Homo sapiens: one gene and its partners. The protein of the gene in region 2 purifies or fractionates together with the protein of the main gene of each other region. This does not show direct contact. Each region holds a gene or a part of one and is shown on either strand. Other genes may lie near its edges.

Region 1 (3,578 bases), on a different chromosome or scaffold from region 2:
AGTAAATATCAATAGCACTTCTCCCTCATCCCCCAATCATGACAACCAAAAATGTCTCCAGACATTGCCAGAGGTACCTGGGCGGCAAAATCGTCCCTGGTTGGGAACCACTGATCTAAATGGGAACCACTGATCTAAATGAATAGATTTCAAAAACATAATGCAGTGAAAAAAAAAAAAAAAGCAAGTTATAAATACGTACAGTAATGGGTACCAAAAAAAAAAAAAAATAGAACGAATGAGTAAGACCTACTATTTGATAGTACAACAGGGTGACTATAGTCAATGATAACTTAATTATACATTTAACATAGAGTGTAATTGGATTGTTTGTAACTCGAAGGATAAATGCTTGAGAGGATGGATACCCCATTCTCCATGATGTACTTATTTCACATTACATGCCTGTATCAAAACATCTCATATACCCTATAAATATATACACCTACTATGTACCCACAAAAATTAAAAATGAAAATGAAAAAGAATAAAATATATACCGTGTGGATGTTACACATATAAAAATTTTAAATATACAAAATACTATACAGGCTGGGCGCAGTGGCTCACACCTGTAATGCCAGCATTTTGGGAGGCCAAGGCGGGTGGATCACGAGGTCAGGAGTTCAAGACCAGCCTGGCCAATATGGGAAACCCTGTCTCTACTAAAAATTCAAAAATTAGCTGGGCGTGTTGGCACGCCCCTGTAATCCCAGCTGCTCGGGAGGCTGAGGCAGGAGAATCGCATGAACCCTGGAGGTGGAGGTTGCAGTGAGCCGACATCGCACCACTGCACTCCAGCCTAGGTGACAGAGCAAGACTCCGTCTCAAAACAAAACAATACATTATTTATAGATACATATATATTCATTTATTCAACAAATATTTATTGAATGCCTCCTATGTGCCAGGCCCTATTCCAGGTACTGGGGATATAATAAATGAACCCAAAGTGTCCTTGTCCTTATAGAGCTTACATGCTAATGTAGGAGAAAGACCGCAAGCCATTATGTAATATTAGGGGGTGGTAAGTGCTATGAAGAAAAAGCAGTGTGTGGGGTAGAGGGGTAGAGACTGCTCTTCTAGATAGATTAGTCAAGGAAGGCCTTTCTAAGGAAGTTTTCTTTGAAAAGAGACCTGAATGAAGTGAAGGAGTGAGACATTCAGTTATTTAGGGGAATAACATTCCAGCAAAAGGACAGACAGCAAATACAAGAAATAGAAACAGAAATATATATACATACAGAGAGAGAGAAAAGTGCCGAAGTATACTTGAGAAAGCAGTCACCTCTGGGGAGCAAGACAATGGATTGGGATGGGTGGCAGTGGTCATCAAAGGAAACATTAGCTTTCTCTACAATTTTTTTTTTTTTTTTTTTTTTTGAGATGGAGTCTCTCTCTGTCACCAGGCTGGAGTGTAGTGGCACGATCTCAGCTCACCGCAGCCTCCACCTCCCGGGTTCAAGCGATGCCCCTGCCTCAGCCTCCTGAGTAGCTGGGACTACAGGCGCGTGCCATCATACCTGGCTAATCTTTTCGTATTTTAGCACAGACAGGGTTTCACCATGTTGGCCAGGATGGTCTCGATCTCCTGACCTGTGATCTGCCCTCCTCAGCCTCCCAAAGTGCTGGGATTACATCTCTACAATATTTTTAAGGTACATGATAAACCTATACACTTTTTTGTCAATTAAAAATAAACAAATAGGCCGGGCACAGTGGCTCACACCTGTAATCCCAGCACTTTGGGAGACCGAGATGGGTGAATCACCTGAGGTCAGGAGTTTGAGACCAACCTGGCCAACATGGTGAAACCCCATCTCTACTACAAATACAAAAAATTAGCCGGATGAGGTGGTGGGCACCTGTAATCCCAGCTACTCAAATTAAAAATAAATAAATAGCCAGGCACAGTGGCTAATGCCTGTAATCCCAGCTACTTGCTGAGATAGGAAGATTGCTTGATCCCAAGAGTCAAGGCTGCAGTGAGCTGTGATCATGCCACGCACTCTAGCCTAGGCGACAGAGTGAGACCCTGTCTTAGAAAAAGAAAAAAAAGAAACTATGCACAGAGATACTTATGTGTTGAGTGAGTGACATAATGGTGACATGATTTGTTACATAAATTGATGGCACCCTGTCTGAACTATTAAGAATGGATCAAATCAAGTTGTATAAAGGACTTGCTTTAATTGGATAAACATTTGCATACCTTGCAAAATCACGTAGGTGATGGGGAACTGTCTCTACTCTGTATTATTAATATGTAAACGTTACTAGGAGAGAGAATAAACCAAATAATCATAACAAAAGGCAAAATAAAAATCATTCTGGAATATCAAATGCTAAAGAGAGTCATAGTGAGAAGGTAATAAACTTTCACTAAGGTTGAAGCAGAGATGTTAAAAAAAGAAAGATAATGGAAGGCTTCAGGGAGGAGGTATTTGAGTTAAGTCTTAAAGAATGAGGATTTTTTTTCTTTTTATGGAGTCTCTTTTTTTTTTGAGACGGAGTCTTGCTCTGTGCCCAGGTTGGAGGTGCAGTGGCGCGATCCTGGCTTACTGCAAGCTCCACCTCCTGGGTTCACGCCATTCATCTGCCTCAGCCTCCTGAGTACCTGGGACAACAGGTACCCACCACCACGCCCAGCTAATTTTTTTTTTTTTTTTTTTTTTTAGTAGAGACGGGGTTTCACTGTGTTAGCCAGGATGGTCTCGATCTCCTGACCTCGTGATCCGCCCGCCTTGGCCTCCCAAAGTGCTGGGATTACAGGCGTGAGCCACCGCACCCGGCCAACGGAGTCTCGCTCTTGTCGCCCAGCCTGGAGTGCAATGGCACAATCCTGGCTCACTGCAACCTCCGCCTCCTGGGTAATACAGACTTTGCAAAAGTTAAAGAACTTCCCTGGGTTCTGGTTTTCTCATCTGTAAAACAGGATTATTACCTTCTATAATAGTAACAAAAGGACTCAATAAGAAAATGTATTTAAAGTGTTAGCATAGCATTTAATACATGCTAGATAAATTTTAATTGATGCTTTCCTTCTGGATCTTCTTTTCCTCGTATATAAAATATATATTATATGTATATTTTTATGTATTTTTAGTACGTGTTTTATATGTATATGTACTATTAACATAATACAACTGTATGTACATATATATACATATATAGAGAGAGACCCTGTCTCTGCATGTATGTATAGAAAGAATTATACGAGATCAGTGGCTTCATAATGATGTTCCATGGAGCCTGCTTCAGAGCCAAAAAGGAAGGCCAATTGTGTAGATCTCTGAGCTTCTATCCTCCAATTTATTTATTTTTATTTTATTTTATTTTATTTATTTATTGAGATGGAGTCTTGCTCAGTCGCCCATGCTGGGGCAGCTCACTGCAACCTCCACCTCCCGGGTTCAAGCAATTCTCCTGCCTCAGCCTCCCGAGTAGCTGGGATTACAGGCACGTGCCACAATGCCCAGCTAATTTTTGTATTTTTAGTAGAGACGGGGTTTCACCATGTTGGCCAAGTGAACTCCTGACCTCAAGTGATCTCCCCGCCTTGGCCTCCCAAAGTGCTG
Region 2 (3,578 bases):
TATATCTGGGTCTTAAGATGTAGTATCTACCTAAAATGCCTGTTTTTCTACCTTTTTAGTCTCTACCTACCGAATTTCTACATATGTTCAAGGCCAGTTCCAATACAGGCACTGAACAAGTTATATTTTAAAAAATATTTTGGTTTTCAAAATTTTTTGGAATTTAGAATCGTGGTTAAGGGTTTGTAGACCTGTATTTCGTCTGTGGATCAATGATGACTCTTGCAGTAGGAGTATCTTCCCTCAATGAATTACTAAAATATTAGGTTTGTAAAATATTTAAAACTCATGCTCACCTATTAGATAACAAGCTATTTAACAGCACTAGATGAATCTTACACATCCTATCCATTGCATTCCTAAGAACAGTTTAGAAACAGCTTAATATTATCCCTTGTGACGAGACATTCAAATTTGAAAAGCCTGTCTCAACTAAATTGCAAAAATAATTTTTCCCTCACTTACCTATTTAATATTGCTTAAAAGGAAAAGATCAGCACATAGTTGCTGAATAGCATTAGGAGAAACACTTAATGTAGATGACAGGTTGATGGGTGCAGCAAACCACTGTGGCACTTGTATACCTATGTAACAAACCTGCATGTTCTGCACGTGTATCCCAGAACTTAAAGTATAATACAGAAAGAAAAAGAAAGAAAGAAAGAAAGAAAGAAAGAAAGAAAGAAAGAAAGAAAGAAAGAAAGAAAAAGAAAGAAAGAAAGAAAGAAAGGGAATAAAATTCAACACTTTAAAAATAGTATCAAGCAAAATTCTCCCTCTTAGAACATAATTCTGAATGAAAAAAAATCTTGAAAATGACTGAGTGATTTTGAAAAACATATATTTCAGATATGATTCCTAACCACGTTTTTAGTGCAGTTTTTCTATATAAAAACCCATAGTGATGTTCACTCCACACTGATTTCTGTATGACACCAGGAGGTTTAATTCAACAAGGAGCCCAATTCAACATGGTCATATGCGGTCAAGTGAAATTGATATTGCAGAGAGGCTAACTCTCTTTGCATTCTCAGGAAAAGGAAGTCATTAACTCAAGTTCATATTCAGTTTTAAATTTCTAACGAAGAGTCACTCCATGCTTAATTTGGGTTTCAAGTTTTATAAGGCAACCTGAGTTTTTAAGGTATTACATGATTTAAATCTAGAGCCTTGCTCTTTAAACTTCCTTCATTTTTTTAGTAGAACTTTTCTTTTTTGAAAACAAGTTCAGAAGGAACTCCAATAATTAAAACAGATACAAGTGGGATTGTTCTGGTTGAAGAGGTACCAATAGCTGTGGGAGGGTCCTGGGGTTCACCTACTTCAATGTTCTCCTCAAAGCCTTTTAAAAACTCCAGGATCCAAGGAATCGACTTTGGAAAGCACTGCTCTAGAAGGACCCCATGATCCTTTGGCTTTTCTTTTTAGGTAAACTGTTTTCATTTTAAAAAATTAAATTTGTATTTATATTTGACTATAAAAGTAAAATGAAAACAGTACCAACAATGTGGGAAAAAAATAAATCACCTCACGCTCCATCTTCCTAACAAAGATAGCATCATTGAATGTCCTTTGTCAGCTGCCTTCACGAACATATTTTGATACAGTGGCAATTGTCCTCAAATTTTCCTTGCTCTTCCCATAGCCACCTCATTTCAGTTCATGGAAATTCCATCTTTCCAGTGGGGCCAAAGATTTGGAGTCCTCTCCATCTCTCACATCTTGTATCTAGTTCATCGGCAAATGCTGTCAGCTCGACCCTCAAAATATATTCACAACCTGCAGAGTCACCATTTGCCACCCTGGTCTGCTCTGAAGAATGATCCTTGGAAAATGTAAGTCAGCCCTCGCCTACCCTTCGCTCAAGACCATCCGATGACTTCCTATCTCACTCAGGGTCAAAATCTTACAGTGGTCTGCAAGACCTCACATAACCCACCCCAGCCCACCTCTCTGATTTTGTTCTTATCATCCTCTCCTAGCCCACTTCACTACAGCCGTATTCCTGGAACACACCCAACCCCTCTACCTCATGGCCTTTCATACTTGCTATTCCTTCTGTCGGAAACACCCTCTCTCAGTTTCTTATCCTCATTCTTCTCTTTCTTTCGATGTCAGCTGAAAACTAACCTCATGAGAGATGTATTCTCCGATGAGCCTTTACAAAATAGTAACTCTTCTCCTATGCTCTTCCTCCCGGATCATGCTCAACTATTCTCCGTGATAATTATCACCACCTGAAATGTGTTTGACTCTCTATTTGTATACACAGTTCCCATCCTTACCCTCCAACTAGTTAATTGCACTTCATCTGTTTTATTCACCACATCTCTAGCACCCAGAATAGTGATTGGCATATAACAGAAACTCAATAAACACTTATTTAATTAAATAAATAAATCTTCTATGTTTATTTTTGTATCCCCAACTACAGTTGTAATCATTGCCCAATTCCATAAAAGAGATGAACCATTTGTTACCATTCATTATGTTCTTCACCATTTCCCTACTCTTTGACGTTTAGGTTGTTCTCTCTCTCTATCTCTCTCTCTGTCTCTCAACAATGCTACACTAGACATATATTCAGTTTATCAGTGAGGGGTTGTAAACAGATGTCAAGGGTACTTTTCATCAGCAACACCATACACATGTATGATCAGTGTCTCAGATCACCACTGTGGATATCACCTCTGTCAACCTGGGGTAGGCGTGAGTTACTTACTGGACTCAGCACCTCACTCACATCTTTTCCACTTGCTGTCAATCCTATTGCCAGCAACACTATCAGTCATAATTCAGATCCATAATCTTCATGGGTTGGCAACCTCCTTTCCTCCACTTCATTTTTAACTTCAGTAATAAAGCAGCAAAGTTACACATTGAAACGATAAGGCACTACCTGGAGCTGTTTCCAACCCTTTACCTCTAATATCGGCCACTGCATGCACTCTTGACCTGGCTTCCTAGATTTCCCAGAGGCCTCCTACTTCCCAGGACTTTGAAGCTTTGTCATGCACAGGAATTACTGGGAGTTGTCCCTGAATCCACACATACACCCAGTACTAGGTGTATGCTAAATAAATATATGTCTCCCCATATTTGTTCTTCTCCATTTTTATTTTTCAAAAATTTAAAAATTGTTTTTGTGTGTGTGAGAGAGGGTCTCCCTCTGTCACCCAGGCTGGACTGCAGTGGCATGATCTCAGCTCACTGCAACCTCTGCCTTCCAGGCTCCAGCAATTCTCCCACCTCAGCTGCCAGAAAAGCTGGGACAACAGATGCATGCCACCACACTCAGCTAATTTTTGTAGAGAGGGGGTTTCACTGCGTTGCCGAAGATGGTCTTGAATTCCTGGGCTCAAGCAATCCTCCTGCTTCAGCCTCCCAAATTGCTGGGATTACAGGTGTGAGTCACTGCACCTGGCCTCTTCTCCATTCTTAAATATATATCGATGCTGTTATGATTTATAGACACAAATTTATTTAACAGTTACACTGAAGTTTTAGTTCATTGTGTGTAGTTGATTATTGCATTTTTTAAAATGCAGCGTAGCTGGACCAAGCTTGTCCAACCCACA
Region 3 (3,578 bases), on a different chromosome or scaffold from region 2:
GATATCCCTCTTCATCCAAGAAAATAACAGGACTTGGACTTGAACATTCTGATTCAGATGAGTAGGCAGGAGAAGACGAAAAAAATGTTTTCTGTAAATCACTATCTTTATCTGAAGCATTAGATGACCTATAGAAACTCCTTTGGGTCCAAGGCTCTGAAATTGATGTTGTGACTGAAGTTTTCACAGAAGGTAGTTCTTTATGTCCCAGGACATTCACTGAGGAAGTTGAGGGTTTAGCCAATGACTTCTGCTGTCCAGAGCTAATGAGAATCTTTAAATCATGGGTTTCTAAATGATGACCAGTAACCGTCTGGGAAGCAGCATCACACTGGCTCCTTAGCACAGTAATGTTCATTCCTATAGGAAAAGAATGAAATGGTGAAATTATTTTTGAACAAAACTTTTTGGAAATTAACTTAAATCCATGGAATAAACTGACTTTAAACATATAATATTTATGTGTATCTTCTAAACTATGTTTAACAGAAAGATTCACCCAAGTAACATTTGAAAGTAAATATACTGTTTATAAAATAATTTCAGTTTACTCTATGTCTAGGGATACCTGGTCTATGGGATGTTTTGCATGCTGTCACGCATGTTAGAAAAATTACCGTGGAGACTCTGCCAGCTAACTCTTCCAAAATTGGAACCTAGGAATGTTCCAGACACTTAATGATGTAACCAGTGCGTGAACAGCACCAACTAAATATGAAAACCTGAAATAAGCAAAACTGAAAACCAGATTACAATGAACTTAAAAATCATAAGGAATTTCCTTAGGTAATCAGAAAAAAAGTTAAAAGGTTTAAATTGAATCAAATCTCAACATAAATTTCAACTGAACAAGCCTGCCTTAAAATTTTCAAAACTGAAAAATTTTAATTCCCTATTTTAGGAAAAAGTCTAATGAAAAACAAACCATCATTGTATGGCTTTGAAGTCTCTTCCTCTTCTAAGTGCTCAAAAGCAGTGACAAAGTCATCCTCTATGGATGACACAGACTGGTTAGTATCATCATCATCTTCATCAGTGGTCTCAAGTTGGTGCTTCTGATGCAAGAATGTGTCCAAGGTGTACCTTATACCAGTAGCATATTTACTTAGGAGACTAAAGATAAAATCAATCCTAAGTCTTGGTGATGTAGGTGACACTCTCATGACACAAAGCATTCCAGAAGGATGACTCTTGGGAAAGATAAAAGATAATAAAAACAATTTTAATTTCAAATACAAAACAACATGAAGTAAAGCCTAGATATAAGACAATCTCAGAGAAAAAAACAAACAAGAAATTCATGCATCCTGAAAAGCTCCTTGGTTTTGTAATGTTTACTTCTTAATTCTTTCTCTACATTTTTCACTTTCCAGTCCTTTTTTCTCCCATCTTCTTTTATCCAGGTATTCAAATTCTACCCAGTCTCCTGAAATGTTATGAAACTTACTATCCATTCCTTTGAGCAATTATGTTTTCCTGTATTACTGTACAGCCCTATGATTTTCCTTAATCATTCACCTATCTCACTAACTATTATAAATTGTTTGGGGGCAGCAACCAAGTTCTATTTTCTTTTATTTTTAATCCCATTTTCCCGTAGTTTCAAGTATGATGCCATCTTCCTTCCTATCACAATTGTTAAAAGTCTACTCCTTTTACTTAAATTTCCCTAGCATTACAACTTACAATGTTTATAGCTTTAAAAATACAAGTAACCAGATTTTCCCCCTCATACTACTTTTTTCAAGTAAATACTGATGAAATTATTTATTCAAAAAACTAGAAATCAAATATAATAGCTTATCACCTCTTATATCCTAGCAAATAAAGCAAATACGAATAAAGAACATAATTAAGGAAATGAAGCAAGCAGTTCTAGTTTTATTGGCAGACCTTATAAAGAACAACATAGCAGTTTTTTTAAAACTAAAATAATCCAAATTTTAAATTTTCTGGTTCAATTGTATATGTCTTATCTCTTAGAATGCAAAGCATTTTCTCTGATGCATTATCAACAAAATCATACTTGGTAAAGAACTAAATGCTGAATATTATAAAACTAACCACCTGTAAGAAATGGTAACATTTTTATTTATAAAGAACACATCAGATGTCCACTTTACATGGAATTTTTTTAAACCAGAAAATGAACTGAAGTACATTCTCTAAAACATATAGCGTAACATTTATATAAATTTGAAATTGGCCATAATAGGGAAAAGTCACTGTAGCTTATACAAAGGTAAAAGTAGTTCAAGAAATCCAGAAATAATAAATTTTCAGAAAAAATTAACATGTACTTGCATACCATCTACGGAACTTCACAGTTAAAAAATATAATTTATAAGATATGACCAAAATTATTATATCCTTCAGGGATGTCAATGCTTCATGAGTTATATTTCTTATGAATCATATTTCCTTGAGATACCATTTAAAAAAAACAAATGTCATCCAAGCATTTAAAAGTTTAATCATCTTTATCAAATATAGTAAAATTTGCCCTAAAAATCTCATTAGAAATTATCTACAAAAGTTACCTGATTTAGAGGATCACTGCTTATATCTAATGGTTTATTTATATTCTTCATACAAATAATTTCATTTTCATTTAGACTGCAGAAGTGGAGTGAATTCAGAATATCTGGAAGTTCCAAAGAAACTGCAGCTAAATCCTGATTTAAAATAATAACAATAAGTAACACTGTAGAGTAACACTTTTGTTAAGGTTCCTATAATGTGGACCCTATCCAAAAATTTTAAGGTCTACTGGCTAGTGAATTTCCTGGTTCATAATAGTTAACATATACAGTTTATTATTCACAGATAATTTTTCAAAAATTCAAAAATAAAATATACTAAAATTATTAAATACTGGCTATCCCCGTAGCCTTTAAAATGTACTGATATCAAGCTATAAAAAAATTGTACAGGGTACCTAACACATCCATGACAATTAAGCATTTAATAGTTTTTAGCAATGTCAACATATAGGTCTTAACTTAACTTTATGAAATTTTTTTCATACAAAATTTTTTGCTAGAGAATGTACATCTTAAAAACTTTTTTTTAAAAACTCTGTACAATATAATCCGTTTTTCTATCTTTCCTCTCCAAGGTATTGTATTAGACTTTAACTGATAATTTTAATGAAGATTAAAGGAAAAGAAAATCGCTTTTATTTCTTCTTCTTGTTTGCCCTTTATACACAAATATTTTACCCAGCTAAAGAATTATTAAAGTCTTTGACCCTTTGTAGAGTACTTTCCTTTATAAACATGGTTTTATCAGTAACTCTTAAAGGAGAAGAAGAACATTAAAGAAATATCTTGGAATACTTCTCTTTCCAGCTATGTATGTTCTCAAGAATATATCCTCTCTTGTTCCTTCTGTCCAAATTATTTCCTTCAAGCAAGGCCACAATCAAAATATACAGCAGTTTTTGCCCATAATCACCTGATATGCATTATTCAGAAAGACCTAAAAATGTTATTTCCTCCTCTATGAGGAGACACTTTACTGCCACAAAAGGAAATATGTAGGAATCACAAATTTTTAAGAAGCAGCACGAGGGAAAA
Region 4 (4,222 bases), on a different chromosome or scaffold from region 2:
GCTGGGGTGCTCAGGAGTACTCGAGGGTGAACTTGGCATGGAACCTGCTCAGCTTCTCCAGCAGCAGCCGCAGTTTCTCCAAGGGGGGCAGAATGGTCATCCTGAAAGGAGTTGACAGTGAGTGAAGGGCCAGGGTGGCGGGACAGGGAGTGAGGGCCAGGCCTCACCGGAAGTGGTAGGTGCCTTCCCGCTGCCCAAAGCCGCTCCCTGGCACCACGCAGATGCCGGTCTCCTCCAGGAGGCGCAGGCAGAAGAACATATCGGGGGCCAGGCCCAGCTCCTGTGGACGGAGAGCCGTCAGAGAGGGATGCCCGGCCCCCCCTGCCCACCCCGCAGGCCCCGCCCCCGCCTGACCTGAGCGCGCTCCACCGCCCGCGGGGGCAGCTGCACGCGCGGGAAGGAGTACATGGCGCCCTGCACTGGGTTGCAGCTGATGCCAGGAGCCTCATTGAAGACCTGCTCGGTGAGCTTGGCCTTGGCCGCCAGCTCTGCCAGCACTGCCTGCTTCTCCTGTGGCCGCGGAGGGAGGGCCCATCAGGGCACGGCACTCGGCATCCCCCACCCCTGATTAGGTCACCTGGACCCCCTCCTGCCCCCAACTCACAGCCTGGAACTGCGCAAAGGAGGGGTCGGTGGGCGCGGGCGGGCTGACCACCAGGTCCAGCAGGGCCTGTCCTGGCACCGGCGGGCACAGCCGCACACTCATCAGCTTCAGCATCTGCTGCTGCACTGCAGCGTCCATGTTCACCACCTCCACATAGCCGCCGCGGAACCCGCACCTGCGCACGGCCAGGTCAGGTGCGGAGGAGGGGGTGGCCCATCGGGCGAGGAGGGCCTGGCCATGGCCCGCGAGCCCCCACCCGCCTCGTACGCACGCACTCGCCCATGTAGCCCTTGGAGGTGGAGTGGAAGGAGGCAAGCTCCTGCTGCCCGGCGTAGGGCGGCCCCATCTCCATGAGCACCTTCTTGAATGAGTGGAACTGCGAACCCGCGGCGTACACGTTGTCCTGGTACACCTGGAAGGGCGCAAGGCGTCACGGGGGCGGACTGTTGCCCGGCTTCCCGCTCCCCCGCGCCGCGCACCTCGTCCGCCAGCAGAAAGAGCCGCTCTTCGAAGGCGAAGCGGATCACGGCCTCGATGCACTCGCGGGTCTGCACCTGCCCTGGGGTGCCGGGGAGGCAGCAGTGCTGGGTGAGCCAAGGGGGCGCACTGCCCTCCGCTGGGCAGCCGGGGTCCAGCGGACCCGGCACTGCCTGGGCCAGGGCGCACGTGGGTGCGGGAGGAGTGGGGCGGGGCGGCGGGGAACGCACCGTGGGCGCGGAGGGAGTGGGGCGGGGCGGCGGGGAACGCACCGTGGGCGCGGGGGGAGTGGGGCGGGGCGGCGGGGAACGCACCGTGGGCGCGGGGGGAGTGGGGCGGGGCGGCGGGGAACGCACCGTGGGCGCGGGGGGAGTGGGGCGGGGCGGCGGGGAACGCAACGTGGGCGCGGGGGGAGTGGGGCGGGGCGGCGGGGAACGCACCGGTGGGGTTGCCAGGGTTGATGACACAGAGCGCACGAGGGCGGCAGTGGTCACGCGCCTGGCCCAGTGCACGGTGAAGCTCGGCCACGTCCAGCGCCCAGGCACGCTCCTCGTCCAGGTAGTAATCCACCTGCACTGCGCCCAGCTCTGCCAGCGTGGCCGAGTAGAGTGGGTACTGGGGGATGGGGATGAGCACACCCGTGCGTGTGTGGCCCTCGCCGGCCACCAGCAGCTTCAGCACCGTCTGCGGAAAGGAAGGGGAAGGCAGGGTTGGCGAGGCCTGGGGCCGCACCTGTCCCCCACCCTGGGCGCCCCCTCTGCAGTGTCAGGAATGTCTTGGTGCCCATGCCCAGCCTACCACGATGGCATCGCTGGCCCCTGTGGACAGGAAGACGTTGTTGGGGTCCGCAGGGATGCCTCCGTCACGCCTCTCAATGTACCGCGCCACGTCCTCCCGGATCAGCTGGATGCCGGAGCTGACGCTGTAGGCCCCTGGACTCGGGCAGGACAGGATGGGAAGTACAGGTGAAGTTCTCCTCAGCCCTCCCAAGGGACTTCCCTCCTCCAGTGGCAGGGCGGCCCTCTGCTTCCTCCTGGCCCTGGCTCTCACCCAGACTGTGGCCCCCACACGCCTGCAAGATGCGCTCCGCCCTTTTCTTGGCATCGTCAGGGAAGTTGGGGCTGCTCAGAAGATCAGGGTTAACACAGAGGGCCAAGACCTGGGAAGACGGAGTGCTGAGGCCAGGGCACATGGGCTGGGGGTGGGGGGGTGCTCCGGGCAGTGCAGGAGCCTCACCTGGCGCAGGAAGGTGATGGGCCTCTGCCCCATAGCCTGTGCGTCCCCGATGTTGGCACGGATGACCTCGGTGAAAGGCTTCTTCACACCCTGGGAGGGGAGGGGAGCAGGCAGGGAGACTGTGCCCTACCTAACCCCTCAGCCCTTGTCCCATGTGCCAGTGGGGCTGGGGCCAACTCGGCCACCCCATTGTGACCTGGAGGGCAGCGAGGGGCCCTGGGCCATACCTGGCGCAGCTCCTGCTCCAGCTCCAAGGCTCGCTGCACTATGGGGCCACGCACTGCGTACTCCACTCTCCGCACACGCGGGTTCATGCCGTCCAGCGTCAGCACCTTCGCCCTCAGTCCATGCCTCACCGCCTGGCTCCGGTCACCTGTGCTCGAGGCCATGACTCTACCCAGACCAGGCGGGAAGGCAGCTCAGGAGGTGGCAGGACCAGAAGTGGGAATGGCGACAGCTGGGTCTGGCTTAGTGGGCCAGGGCTGGGAGGGGGCAGCCGTAGCAGAGGGAACTCCAGGCAAGAGAGCACCCTCTTCACCGCAGCTGGCCTCACTGGGAGGGACAGAAAGGGCTGAAGGAGCTGGGGACAGTTGGGCCCCGCCCCACCCGTCTGGGAACAGCTCTGCCCCAGGGAGGCAGAGGCAGTGGGTGAGGTGGCAGGCGGGGCTTGGGGCAAGGCCCAGTGCCTGCCTAGTGTCCCCACGAAGGGAGAGCAGGAGACCCACATGGGGGGTAGGTACAGACGTCAGTCCGGACAGCTCTGAGGGACTAGACATGGGGGGAGGGGGAGAGGGCTGAGCACCTGGGGTGCTCAGGAGGTGAAGGGGTGCCCAGCAGCCCTGAGGGGCTGGCAGAGCTGGCAAGGAGGGACCCCCGAGGCGAGACTGGAGCCTGGGCTGCTGGGATTTACCCCAGCAGGGCTTGGCCGAGGCCTGGCCCTCGTGGCACCCGCATCTTTGCTTGGGCCAGCGGACCTGTCTCCTATTAACTGAGCCAGGCCTCAGGAATCCAGGGGGTGCTGGGGGGAGGGGAGGGGTGTTCAGGCTCTGGGTTCCATCTGGACCCTCCAGAGCTGGCAGCTATGGCCCAGAGGCTGCAAGAGCTCTGTAGCTGGACCTTGGTCCCTGATGAGCACTGCGAGGGGCTGGGGGAGGGGGCTGGAGCCAGGCAGTCCAGCCCTGAGCCCTGGGACAGCTCACACCGTGGCTGCTGTCATGCCCTTTCACCAGGCACCAGCTGGGGGTTGCCCTTGGGACACACCCGAGGCTAGGGGTGACCTGAGCTCTCCAGCCCTCTTGTTCCCGATTGGAGGAGAGAGTAGGAAACGAGCTGGGATAGGCCGTCAGAGCCCCACCTCCACAGGCCTGCTGAGCTGAAAGGCCAGGCTCCACGCTGGCCCACCCCAGCGTCGGGCACCGAAACCTGAACCATGGGGGTCAGGGAGCCGGCCCTCTGAGCAGGGCTGTGGGCAACCAGCCAGGCCCAAGTCGGACCTTGGCTCCTCTGATCCTGCTGGCTGGGAGAAAAGCCATCGGGAGCCCTGGACAGCCGGCCCCCAGGCCTCTCACCGTGCACGTCTCTGTTCCGCTGCCACAACAGCCTCCCCGTGCGCAGGCCTGCCCCTCTGGCCCCCAGGCCGGGGCACAGGTTAACATGGGCCTGGCCCCAGGCAGAGCCAGCCCCTGCCCGCCCCCTGGCAAGGGAGTCCAAGTGGCAGCCCTGGTGGCAGGTGGACCTTGGGCAGCTGCCCCACCCCCCACACTAAATTTAACCAGCAGCCAGCCCTGGCCCGCCCACAGCCCTGTGAGGACACCCTTCCAACCAGGGATGCTAGGGGAAGGGCAGGCCCAAAGGACACTGGGCTGACGGGCCCGTGCTGAGCCAGGAGGGAGAACAGCCCAAACC

The links.
Region 1: the proteins of PLD1 (region 2) and ECD purify together in Homo sapiens (co-immunoprecipitation; one large-scale study listed by IntAct). This does not show direct contact.
Region 3: the proteins of PLD1 (region 2) and AKAP11 purify together in Homo sapiens (affinity purification with mass spectrometry; one large-scale study listed by BioGRID and IntAct). This does not show direct contact.
Region 4: the proteins of PLD1 (region 2) and GPT purify together in Homo sapiens (affinity purification with mass spectrometry; one large-scale study listed by BioGRID and IntAct). This does not show direct contact.

Annotation. Positions count from the first base shown.
Region 1 is NC_000010.11:73,140,438-73,144,015, reverse strand, and holds part of ECD (protein ecdysoneless homolog), read left to right. Parts: intron 1-2,530; coding exon of another isoform or gene 2,531-2,629; intron 2,630-3,578. UniProt on the Homo sapiens protein: Regulator of p53/TP53 stability and function. Inhibits MDM2-mediated degradation of p53/TP53 possibly by cooperating in part with TXNIP. May be involved transcriptional regulation. In vitro has intrinsic transactivation activity enhanced by EP300.
Region 2 is NC_000003.12:171,681,461-171,685,038, forward strand, and holds part of PLD1 (phospholipase D1), read right to left. Parts: intron 1-3,578. UniProt on the Homo sapiens protein: Function as phospholipase selective for phosphatidylcholine. Implicated as a critical step in numerous cellular pathways, including signal transduction, membrane trafficking, and the regulation of mitosis.
Region 3 is NC_000013.11:42,296,145-42,299,722, reverse strand, and holds part of AKAP11 (A-kinase anchor protein 11), read right to left. Parts: intron 2,676-3,578; coding exon 2,541-2,675; intron 1,191-2,540; coding exon 926-1,190; intron 361-925; coding exon 1-360. UniProt on the Homo sapiens protein: Binds to type II regulatory subunits of protein kinase A and anchors/targets them.
Region 4 is NC_000008.11:144,502,789-144,507,010, reverse strand, and holds the start of GPT (alanine aminotransferase 1), read right to left. Parts: upstream 2,872-4,222; 5' UTR 2,707-2,871; coding exon 2,545-2,706; intron 2,408-2,544; coding exon 2,318-2,407; intron 2,241-2,317; coding exon 2,132-2,240; intron 2,047-2,131; exon of another isoform or gene 2,014-2,046; coding exon 1,880-2,013; exon of another isoform or gene 1,845-1,879; intron 1,766-1,844; coding exon 1,522-1,765; intron 1,164-1,521; coding exon 1,084-1,163; intron 1,017-1,083; coding exon 880-1,016; intron 780-879; coding exon 605-779; intron 511-604; coding exon 355-510; intron 281-354; coding exon 168-280; intron 102-167; coding exon 11-101; 3' UTR 1-10. UniProt on the Homo sapiens protein: Catalyzes the reversible transamination between alanine and 2-oxoglutarate to form pyruvate and glutamate. Participates in cellular nitrogen metabolism and also in liver gluconeogenesis starting with precursors transported from skeletal muscles.